3 linked regions of the Homo sapiens genome follow. Changing the gene in region 3 together with the main gene of any one other region gives a genetic interaction. Each region holds a gene or a part of one and is shown on either strand. Other genes may lie near its edges. The genes, in order: NF1, PBRM1 and BRIP1.

What was found.
Region 1: changes in BRIP1 (region 3) and NF1 together harm fitness more than expected from each alone (negative genetic interaction), as found in Homo sapiens cells (one large-scale study listed by BioGRID).
Region 2: changes in BRIP1 (region 3) and PBRM1 together harm fitness more than expected from each alone (negative genetic interaction), as found in Homo sapiens cells (one large-scale study listed by BioGRID).

The regions. Positions count from the first base shown.
Region 1 is NC_000017.11:31,370,821-31,374,476, forward strand, and holds part of NF1 (neurofibromin), read left to right. Parts: intron 1-3,192; coding exon 3,193-3,335; 3' UTR 3,336-3,656. UniProt on the Homo sapiens protein: Stimulates the GTPase activity of Ras. NF1 shows greater affinity for Ras GAP, but lower specific activity. May be a regulator of Ras activity.
Region 2 is NC_000003.12:52,609,408-52,613,063, reverse strand, and holds part of PBRM1 (protein polybromo-1), read left to right. Parts: intron 1-2,472; exon of another isoform or gene 2,473-2,530; coding exon of another isoform or gene 2,531-2,546; intron 2,547-3,108; coding exon 3,109-3,656. UniProt on the Homo sapiens protein: Involved in transcriptional activation and repression of select genes by chromatin remodeling (alteration of DNA-nucleosome topology). Required for the stability of the SWI/SNF chromatin remodeling complex SWI/SNF-B (PBAF).
Region 3 is NC_000017.11:61,797,377-61,801,032, reverse strand, and holds part of BRIP1 (Fanconi anemia group J protein), read left to right. Parts: intron 1-1,733; coding exon 1,734-1,933; intron 1,934-3,656. UniProt on the Homo sapiens protein: DNA-dependent ATPase and 5'-3' DNA helicase required for the maintenance of chromosomal stability. Acts late in the Fanconi anemia pathway, after FANCD2 ubiquitination.

The sequences.
Region 1 (3,656 bases), about 30 Mb from region 3:
CCTGCATGCGGGCCAGCTCCAAGTTGTTTCAAACCTTTGTCTTTTTAAGGTCCTAGTTTTGCCTGAATCTTATTTTCTATTAAAGAAACAACTCAGAATTACTGGACTTGAAACTTGTAGGCCAAATGCAAATTTGAGGAAATGGAAGGTCAAATACGCTGACAAATTCATAATTTTAAGTGGAGGATGCCAAAGGGAAAAAAAAAAGTTCTATCTTTTCAACTAAAAATATTATACCACTCTCTGGAGATCAGGGATTGCATGCTTTGGGGCTCTGAATTACAGGTATCTAGCTATCACATTTTAAAATGGAAGTGTTCAGTTCATTCAGTATTAATTGAAAATAATTTTTCAATGTATTGAAAAAATAACTAGATTTTACAGGAAAACAAAAATGAATAATAATGATCTTTACCCTTCTCAGTGCCTTTACTCAGTAGAGGAAGATGGATGTACAAGTTGTAGAATCATAGGCAAGTTAATTTAAAAGCAAGGAAGGAGAAAGTAGTTCTGGCAAGAGACAGAATAATGCATCATGAAGGAAAAGGATATGAGAAAAAAAAATATGGGTTGAATTTTATCTTGTAGAGATACGCAAGACAATTAAAAGAGCCTACACAAACATACATCCCAAAGAAGCTCAAGGCACATTCCAGAGATCATGAGCAGCTTTCTTTCAGTTTTGTTATTTCTTTTGTAAATAGCTCTGGAGAGGATGCAAATAAATATACAGAAGAGAATTTAAATAGACCAGAATTCTGTTACCCAGAGAAAAGTTCCATGAATGTTTCTAGTCATCTTTCTATGCATATGATTAGATTAGATTAGATTAGAACATGACTAGCCTTAAAAAATTTAATAAGGGTTTTAAAAAAGATTTGAATAGAACAGATTTTCAGTGGTGGTTCAGCTATGCTCACCTCCTGGAGAAATGTCGCTGATGTTTTTCCTTGCACTCATATGCCTGATGCAGTGCACATGTTCATAAACAGTCACTGACAAATGCCCATGTTCCTTTGACAGCAGTTCAGATTTTCAAGACAGCAAATCTCTGTTGAGCACGTGTAAACCAGGCCACGTGCTTACAGATGCCTGATACTCTTGAGTCGAATTCAGAGCTGAATCCAAATGAAAGATGAGTGGCTCCTAGAGGGAGGTCATCCCAAGTTCATTTCCTGTTCATGAGCCAACAAATAACTAACTGGGTAGATCTATGTACATTTTCTGTAACATAATGAATACTTCTTGACTTGAAATATTACTTTTTGTCCAAAAATGGAAATTTTTCTATTCTAAGATTTAAAATTTCAATATATAAAGAAGAATAAAGTACAAATTAGCTGAAATCTTGCCATACAGAGGTAAAATATATTTTTTAGTCCTTTGGCTTCTGACAGAGATAAAATATTTTGGCAGATGTTTACCCAGCCCTACGCCCTCTCCCCACAGTGTGTGGGTGTTTTTTTCCTACTCCAAAAATTGTGGTCATCTTTTTGTATCAGTAAATATCAATCAGTAATGTACATTTTGATACAAATTACTAAAACGTTCTGCAGCTGTTTGCTTTCCCGCCAAAATTTATGCCAGCAGTAAGTATAATCAGTCTAATTTTGGGGGTAAATTTTATTGATGTTTAACAGAAAAGTTCACAAATTGCAAGTTTTCAGCTTAGTGAACTTTTAAAATGTAAACACACTTGAAAATCCATCATCTACATCAAGAAACAGAACATTACCAGCATCCCAAGAAGCCATCCTCATGCCCCCTTAAGTCACTACTTCCGCAAGGGTGACCACAGTCCTGTTACCCAATTTGTAATCTTTCCTAATGTGATAGATAAAAATAAAAATCTTATTTTAGTTTCTGGTTACTTTTCTGAAGTTACTGCTTAGATTATTTATAATATTAATTGGGGTGGGGTGCAGTGGCTCATGCTTGTAATCCCAGAACTTTGAGAGGCCAAGATGGAAGGATTGCTTGAGACCAGGAGTTCAAGACCAGCCTTGGCAACATAGTGAGACTCTATCTCTAGACAGAATTTTAAAATTAGCTGGGCATGGTGGCATGCACCTGTAGTCCTAGCTGTTTGGGAGGCTGAGGCGAGAGGATAGCTTGAGCCTGGAAGTTCAAGGTTATAGTGAGCTATGATCACACCACTGCACTGCAGCCTGTGCAACAGGGCAAGACCCTGTCTCTAAATAAATAATCAATCATTGTTAGGCCCAGGTTTTGGAGGTTTAATCTCCTCCTCAAGAGAAATAAATGGCATCTGTTTAAGGTTGCAGAATGTGAAATGACTTGGCATAGCTGAAAAGAAGCAAAGATTCTACAGTATGACCTTTGTGATATATTATTTTCTCAGTAAATAGTTTCTTTGGGATAGGCACTGTGATTAAAAAAATAAAAGCATCTTGAGTTTTCTTTGAAGTGACAAATTTGCTGGAAAGATCAGTACTTTCTGCTGCTGGAGAGTATATTCTGTTTATAAACATGAATGAGGATGTGAATAAGGCTAGAAGATGACCTCTGCTGGAAGTTTCTGGTATGATTTGGAGGAAGGAGCACTAGTCTTCCCTGGTGGCTGCTAGCCTTTCATTTAGTTCAAGCCTGCCAGCCTCTAGCTTTTCCTTGCAACTTGTCTTTTCATTTTTCTTGTGCTATTTTCTGCTATGATAGCAAACTTTGCATAACAAAATGTGAAGTTTTCCATGTGACATTAACTTAGTAAACATTTTAGCAATTGACTATTAAAATGAAATGTGCATAAACAATTTGCCAGGTTGTATCTTATCACAAATATAGTCATGTGCTGCATAACAACATTGCAGTCAACAACAGAACACATATAGACAGTGGTCCCGAAAGATTATAATACTGTATTTTTACTGTACCTTTTCTGTGTTAGATATACAAATAGTTAGCATTGTGTTACAACTACATAAAGTACACAATATGGTAACCTGCTGTACAGGTTTGTTGCCTGGGAGAAACAGGCTATACCATATAGCCTTGGTGTGTAGTAGGCTATGCTATCTAAGTTCATGTAAGTACACTCCACAATATTTGCACAGACAAAATCGCCTAATGATTGTTTCCTAGAATGTGTCCCCGTTGTTAAGCGACACATGACTGCAATGAAATTCAGTCCTGGAAGGAAAAGAAGAAGTAACTGGCTGTTCTCTTTTTCTCCAGGAATCGACAAGGAGAACGTTGAACTCTCCCCTACCACTGGCCACTGTAACAGTGGACGAACTCGCCACGGATCCGCAAGCCAAGTGCAGAAGCAAAGAAGCGCTGGCAGTTTCAAACGTAATAGCATTAAGAAGATCGTGTGAAGCTTGCTTGCTTTCTTTTTTAAAATCAACTTAACATGGGCTCTTCACTAGTGACCCCTTCCCTGTCCTTGCCCTTTCCCCCCATGTTGTAATGCTGCACTTCCTGTTTTATAATGAACCCATCCGGTTTGCCATGTTGCCAGATGATCAACTCTTCGAAGCCTTGCCTAAATTTAATGCTGCCTTTTCTTTAACTTTTTTTCTTCTACTTTTGGCGTGTATCTGGTATATGTAAGTGTTCAGAACAACTGCAAAGAAAGTGGGAGGTCAGGAAACTTTTAACTGAGAAATCTCAATTGTAAGAGAGGATGAATTCTTGAA
Region 2 (3,656 bases), on a different chromosome or scaffold from region 3:
TTAGCAGTAATTTCTTGGTTTCATCTAATACTTGATAAATTATCAAGTTCTTCTGATTGTCTCACAAATGTATTTTTATAGTTGATTTCCTCAAATCAGACTCTCATTAAGTTCTATATAATAAATTTGATTATTATACTCTTTTTTTTTTTTTTTTTGAGACGGATTCTCACTCTGTTGCCCAGGCTGGAGTGCAGTGGCACGATCTCGGCTCACTACAGACTCCGTCTCCTGGGTTCCCCCAATTCTTCTGCCTCAGCCTGCAGGGTAGCTGTAACTACAGGGACACGCCACCATGCCTAGCTAATTTTTTTGTATTTTTAATAGAGACAGGGCTTCACCATGTTGGCCAGACTGGTCTCGATCTCCTGACCTCAAGTGATCCGTCCGCCTCCGCCTCCCAAAGTGCTAGGATTACAGGCATGAGCCACCGCACCCAGCAGATTGTTATACTCTTAAACCCATGATCTAGAGCAGTCTCCTTCCTTTTCTTTCCACATGCCAGTAACTCATTGAAGAAATCAGGTCACTTTCCTGTACAGTGTCCCAAGTTCTAGGTTAGACAGGCTTGCTTCCTTGTGATATCTGTAACTTTTTTCTTTATTTCCCTTATTTCTTATAAATAGAAGTTAACTTTGAAGGTGCGATTAGATTAAGTTTCACCTTGGTGGTGATACTTTATAAGGGGTTTGCTGCCCTTATGTTGTATCATGTCTTGAGGCAGTGTCTGGTTAAAGTAGAATCCAGATAAAGTCCACATACTGCAACTGATTGATACCTCTTTTTTTTTTTTTTTTTTTTTTTTGAGACGGAATCTCGCTCTGTTGCCTAGGCTGGAGTCAGTGGCACGATCTCGGCTCACTGCAACCTCCGCCTCCTGGGTTCAAGTGATTGTCCTGCCTCAGCCTCCCAAGTAGCTGGGACTACAGGTGTGCACCACCACGCCCGGCTGATTTTTGTGTATTTTTAGTAGAGGCAGGGTTTCACCATATTGGCCAGGCTGGTCTTGAACTCCTAACCTCGTGATCTGCCCGCCTCGGCCTCCCAAAGTGCTGGGATTAAAGGTGTGAGCCACCATGCCCAGCCCGATACTTCTTTTAATCTGTAAACTCCCCTCCAGCTCTCTCTTTTTCCACCCCTTACCATTTATCTGTTGAAGAAATTAGATTTGTGCTGTAGTTTCCCATAGTCTGGGTTTTGCTGATTGCATCCATATGTTGTGGGGTTTTTTGTGTGTTTTGTGTTTTGTTTTGTTTTGTGGAGACAGGGTCTTACTCTGTCACCCAGGCTGGAGTGTAGTGGCACATTTTTGGCTCATTGCCACCTCCACCTCCCTTCTGAAGCAGTCCTTCCACTTTAGCCTCTCGGGTAGCTGGGACTACAGGTACACGCCACCACGTCCAGCTCATTTTTTTGTATTTTTAGTAGAGACAGGGTTTTGCTATGTTGCCAGGCTGGTCTTGAACTCCTGGGCTCAAGTGATCTGCCCACCTTGGCCTCCCATAGTACTAGTATTGCAGGCATGAGCCACAGCTCCTGGCCCACTATGTTGTACTTTCATGTGTTCCTCTGTCCTTTGTATTTCCTATAAATTGGTAGTTGGAGCCAGAGGCTTGATCAGATTGAGGTCTGATCCCCTGTTCTCTCCCTTAGGCAGAAAAACCGACTTCATAGGTAATATATGGTCTTCCATCAGGTACATGTGAAATCTATTTATGGCTTTCTGTTAACAGGTGTTGTTGCATACTTCATTAATTATTAATTCATGAAAGGGATGTAAAATTGTGATAGTTTTTAATTTTATTCCTTATTAGCTATAGAGAAACTTTGCCTTATCTAATATTTGATTAGCCAGTGGTACAGTGTTTTTTTTGTGTGTGTCTTGCTTTTTGAAAGGATAAAGGCTTGATTTTTGTTTTATTTTGTTTTCACCTTTACCAGTTTTCAAAATATGTATTGGTTTACTAACATCCTTCAATATTTACCCATTTTGTTGTTTGTTTGTACGTATTATTAAGAACTACCAGACTTAAACATATGGCTGAGTTGTAATTGAAGTTATTGTCCTTATTGATACTCAGGCTGGTTCAGGCTCGTTCCTGTATTCTTTTTGTTTTGTTTTTTTGAGACAGAGTCTCGCTCTGTCGCCCAGGCTAGAGTGTAATGGCTTGATCTCAGCTCACTGCAACCTCTACCTCCTGGGTTCAAGCAATTATCCTGCCTCAGCCTCCCGAGTAACTGGGATTACAGGCGCCACCACCACACTCGGCTAATTTTTTGTATTTTTAATGGACACAGGGTTTCGCCATGTTGGCCAGGTTGATCTTGAACTCCTGACCTCAGGTGATCCACCCACCTTGGCCTCCCAAAGTGTTGGGATTACAGGCATGAGCCACCACGCCCAGCCGGTTCCTATATTCTATTGACATGAAGTCATGGTAAGAAGTCATTGATAGATTCTTTACTGTCTAGTGTTTGAAGATATACCAGACTGGGAATCAGCCATTTACCAAGGAGCCCTACCTTTTTCATGTTTCTGCTGAAAGGTGAGGGCTCCTCAACATTACTATTTGGAATTAGTATTTTAAAACTCTAATGTGGGCTATACTGCTACTGAGGTAGTCATTGTTTGTACGATTTTCAGTGGACAGAGCTAGGAAATTTGTGTGTTTGTTTGTATGTTTATATTTAAAGATAAATTACATCATAAGTTCATAGTGATACTTTCAATTGAGATTAAAGGCCTCAAGGTAATTATTAATGTCCTACGTTTTAACATCCGTTATCTCTTTTTATCCCATGATGAAAATCTCAGTTCTCCAGGATACCAGAGGTGATAGAATGTCACATAGCTACTCATTTGCTTTATTCCTTCTTATTCACAGCTTTCTCAACCTTACAGTAGTCTCCCATCAAAAATATAATTACTGAAAACAGTTAAAAAAAATTTTTAGTACTTTTTTGTCTGCAGGTTATATTTCACTATAGACATGCTAATTGCTAGATTTTACAAATTACTTGGAATCGTCCCTTGTGGTTATGCTACCATCTGTATACAAATTTAGGTTCATTTATTTTATTCATTTAACATTAAATATCTCTCTTTAGGTAGGAAGAGTGGCATTTCTCCTAAAAAATCAAAATACATGACTCCAATGCAGCAGAAACTAAATGAGGTCTATGAAGCTGTAAAGAACTATACTGATAAGAGGGGTCGCCGCCTCAGTGCCATATTTCTGAGGCTTCCCTCTAGATCTGAGTTGCCTGACTACTATCTGACTATTAAAAAGCCCATGGACATGGAAAAAATTCGAAGTCACATGATGGCCAACAAGTACCAAGATATTGACTCTATGGTTGAGGACTTTGTCATGATGTTTAATAATGCCTGTACATACAATGAGCCGGAGTCTTTGATCTACAAAGATGCTCTTGTTCTACACAAAGTCCTGCTTGAAACACGCAGAGACCTGGAGGGAGATGAGGACTCTCATGTCCCAAATGTGACTTTGCTGATTCAAGAGCTTATCCACAATCTTTTTGTGTCAGTCATGAGTCATCAGGATGATGAGGGAAGATGCTACAGCGATTCTTTAGCAGAAATTCCTGCTGTGGATCCCAACTTTCCTAACAAACCACCCCTTACATTTGACATA
Region 3 (3,656 bases):
GAAGTGGGATTACAGCAGGATTTCTCTTTGCATTTATGAATATTCAAAAAGAATTATTTAGAAACATTTCTCTGAAAAAACTATGTTTTGAAGAACTTATGTGGGGGAATAAAATTATGCCTTGTGAGCTTTGAGAAGTGAACTTCAGATAATGGCATTTGTGTTTGTTTGCCTGGTTCTTTTTAGAGACATGCAATTGTTAACAGCATAAGACAAAAAGTGAATAATTTGGCATAGTCAATTGTTATTCCTGTCTTCAGATCTGACTGCACAATTCATCTCAGCTTTCTATTTCTTTAAGATCCAAATTAATAGGCATTATGTTTACTACCCCTTCTATCCTACCTCTTATTTGGTTATCTCTTAACTAGATCTCTTCCTTCTGAGACACTGTGCATATCAATGCCAGGTCAGTTTTCCAAATATTGCTTTTATTACATCCTTTTATCTGCCTAAAAATCTATTGCTTCCTTTGCTCATGAGATAAAGTTCATATTTCTTAAGCTTACACTCAAGATGCTCAATAGTCTGACCTGGATCTGCCCAATTTGAATCCTTCAAAAATTACCTCATACTCCCTTGAGGATACCTTGTTCTTTACTCTATCTTTGCTTTTGATGACACCTCTTTGGAATGCCCTGTCCACTCTTTGTCTGTCCAAATCCAAATCCTACTTATCTTTTAAACCCCAATATATTTCCTACTCTTCCATGGTTTTTTCTCAACTTTTCAGCTGTCTGTGTATTCTTACTTCCTCAAAATAACTCATTGACAATTGCTTTGTGACAGTTCCTTGTATTAGTCAGTACTCTTTCTATTGCAAGTGACACAAACCTACCCTAAAAAATGCTTAAGAAAAAATACTTGATTCTCTTTATTGTGATGGCTTTATTCTCAGGCAAGTTCTCACTCTTGCTTATGGAACAAAGATAACCATAAGCAGCTAGCTCACCTGGAGAAAAGAGCATGGCCACATATTAGTCCCTCCAAATTACTCTGGTTGGCCTACCGTGGATCACATGTCTGTTCCTGAACCTGAACCAGTCACTGTGACCACAGAAGGATGGAATACTCTATTTAACTGACAATCCTGGGCCTTACCCCCATTGTGAAAGTGGTGATGTCCTTTGATTCACAGGTTAATAGTCCTGCCAGCATCACATGGGAGTTGGAGAAGAACAATTCTCCAACTCCCATGTTGGAGAAGGATTGCAGGACAGATTAAAACAAAACATATATATTATGTTAGTATTTTAAGAGTCATTTTAATCTTGTATTGTTATTTTACTTTTAAAGGTTTTATGCTTTTAATCTTGTATTGTTATTTTACTTTTAAAGGTCTTATGCTTTTAATCTTATATTGTTATTTTATTTTTAAAGGTCTTATAATTAGTTTGTAAAATTATGTTGGAAACACTTTCATAGTGGGATTTTATACCTTTCTGTGTAGCCTGTGGTACCTTGATCCAGACTCACTGACATATTTTTGTTGCTGTCGATAGGTTTGCAAAGTATTTTAAGAGTAAAAAAATGGCAAACACAATAATGTAGAGCTGATATTTGGTTGGCCATAGTGCTTCAGAAGTTTTATTTAAGACCTAGAATCTCTGTTGCTTATGTAATTGCATTTGCAATATTGGCCTATAGTGTGAATTTTAAAATGAAATATCTTGCCTGCTGTTGTTAAATCTATTTTGCCAAATGTTTTACAAGAAAATTCTTTTATCTTATAGATGGATTTAAATCTGAAAGAACAGGTTGTCATTTTAGATGAAGCTCATAACATCGAGGACTGTGCTCGGGAATCAGCAAGTTACAGTGTAACAGAAGTTCAGCTTCGGTTTGCTCGGGATGAACTAGATAGTATGGTCAACAATAATATAAGGAAGAAAGATCATGAACCCCTACGAGCTGTGTGCTGTAGCCTCATTAAGTAAGAAGATTTGTCTATTAGTGTATTTGTGCTGCCTTTATATGAAAAATATGTTTGATTATGCCAGAGTATTTAAAGTTAGTAAACTTTGGTTAACTAGGCTTCTTGGGAAATGAATTGTTCCTTGCCAGTTAAGCTTTAAAAACAAGGCTAGTCCAACCTTTTGTCTTGTTCACAAGAATATAATGAACATAAGTGATTTTTAAAAATGAATAATTGTGAATCTTATTCCTAATTTGGCAGGATAACATAATAGCCCCGAAGGATGTGTCTAGGATATTGAACCAGAAACTAAACGTGCTTTTAATTAATATATTTTAAAATTCTGGATCATGGCTTTAATTTATTGCTTTATTCTCCAATTTAAATAGGATTCTAGTTTCATGGGTTTTAATTAATCAAGATTTCAGTACTCTAAAATAATATATTTAGTACTAGCTTTATGACAATTTACACTAATTTTTCTTTTATTAGACATTAAGTTGTTGATCTAGAATCTTGTTACCATAGAAAAAAACTTCCCAACTCTGAATCCCATTTCATTTATTGTAGCATTTTTCTGTTTCCTTCACATTTACACTTTAAAAAAATTTGAATGTTACACAGTCACATGGTTTGAAGACAAAATGTATACAAATTTGTATAGTAAAAACCTCCTTCCAGTTCCATCCCTGATCTGTTTAATGTCTGTGTTCTCCTAAACAAGTTTATCATTCAATGCATATTACTCATTTATGAACCAATATTAGATATATTTTCTTGTCCCTCACTATTTTCCAAATGATGGCATAGTATACATACATTTTTCTGCAACTTGCTTTTTTCAATTCCCAGTGTATTTTGGAGACCTTTCCATGTTAAGACCTAGAAAGCTTTCTCAGTTTAAAAAAAAAATAGATATCTAGAATTCCATTAGATAGATATGCAATAGTTTATTTAACCAGCCTCTGATTAATAGAGGAGGTTGTTTCTAGTTTTTTGCTCTTAAACTGCTATAATGAATAACTTTGAACATACATAATTTCATTTGTATGCAAATATATCTATAGGAATCTTTTTAGAAGTGGAATTGTTGGGTGAAAGCATAGACATATTTGTAATTTCAATAGATATAGCTAACATTTACACAATAGGTGGATGACAGGGGGGCTAATGTATGCTTCTACCAGCAATGTATAAGAGTATGGAAATTGTTTTCTTCTAGCCTGCTAGGTGAAAAGTGGTATCCCAATGTAGTTTTAATATTCATTTTCCTTAATATGCATGAAATTAAGCATCTTTAAAGGCCATTTATATTTCCTTTTGTGTCAACTGCCTGTTGACATCTCTGTCCTTTTTTTGTTCTTATTGTGGTTCTTTTTCTTAATGATTTATAGAACCCCATTCATATATTAGGGAATTAAAATCTTTGCCTGCAATAAGAGTTGTAAATACTTTCCACCCCATTTTGCCATTTGTGTCTTTTCTGGTGGTGTTTTGCCATGCAGATTTTTGTGGTTTTTATTTTACAGCATAACTTGTTGAAAGAGTTGTCTGTAGTTGCTAATTCTATTTTCTCACTTGACATTCTTCCCTCATCGATCTTAGCAGTGTTGCTCTCTGGACAATTCTACGCAAATTGTTTTGATCAAGATCACTAGTGATCTCTATATTGCCAAATACAGAGGTTATTGTTTCTTTTATCTCAGCCAGTCAGTGGTGTTGGGTAGTTGATGACTACCTC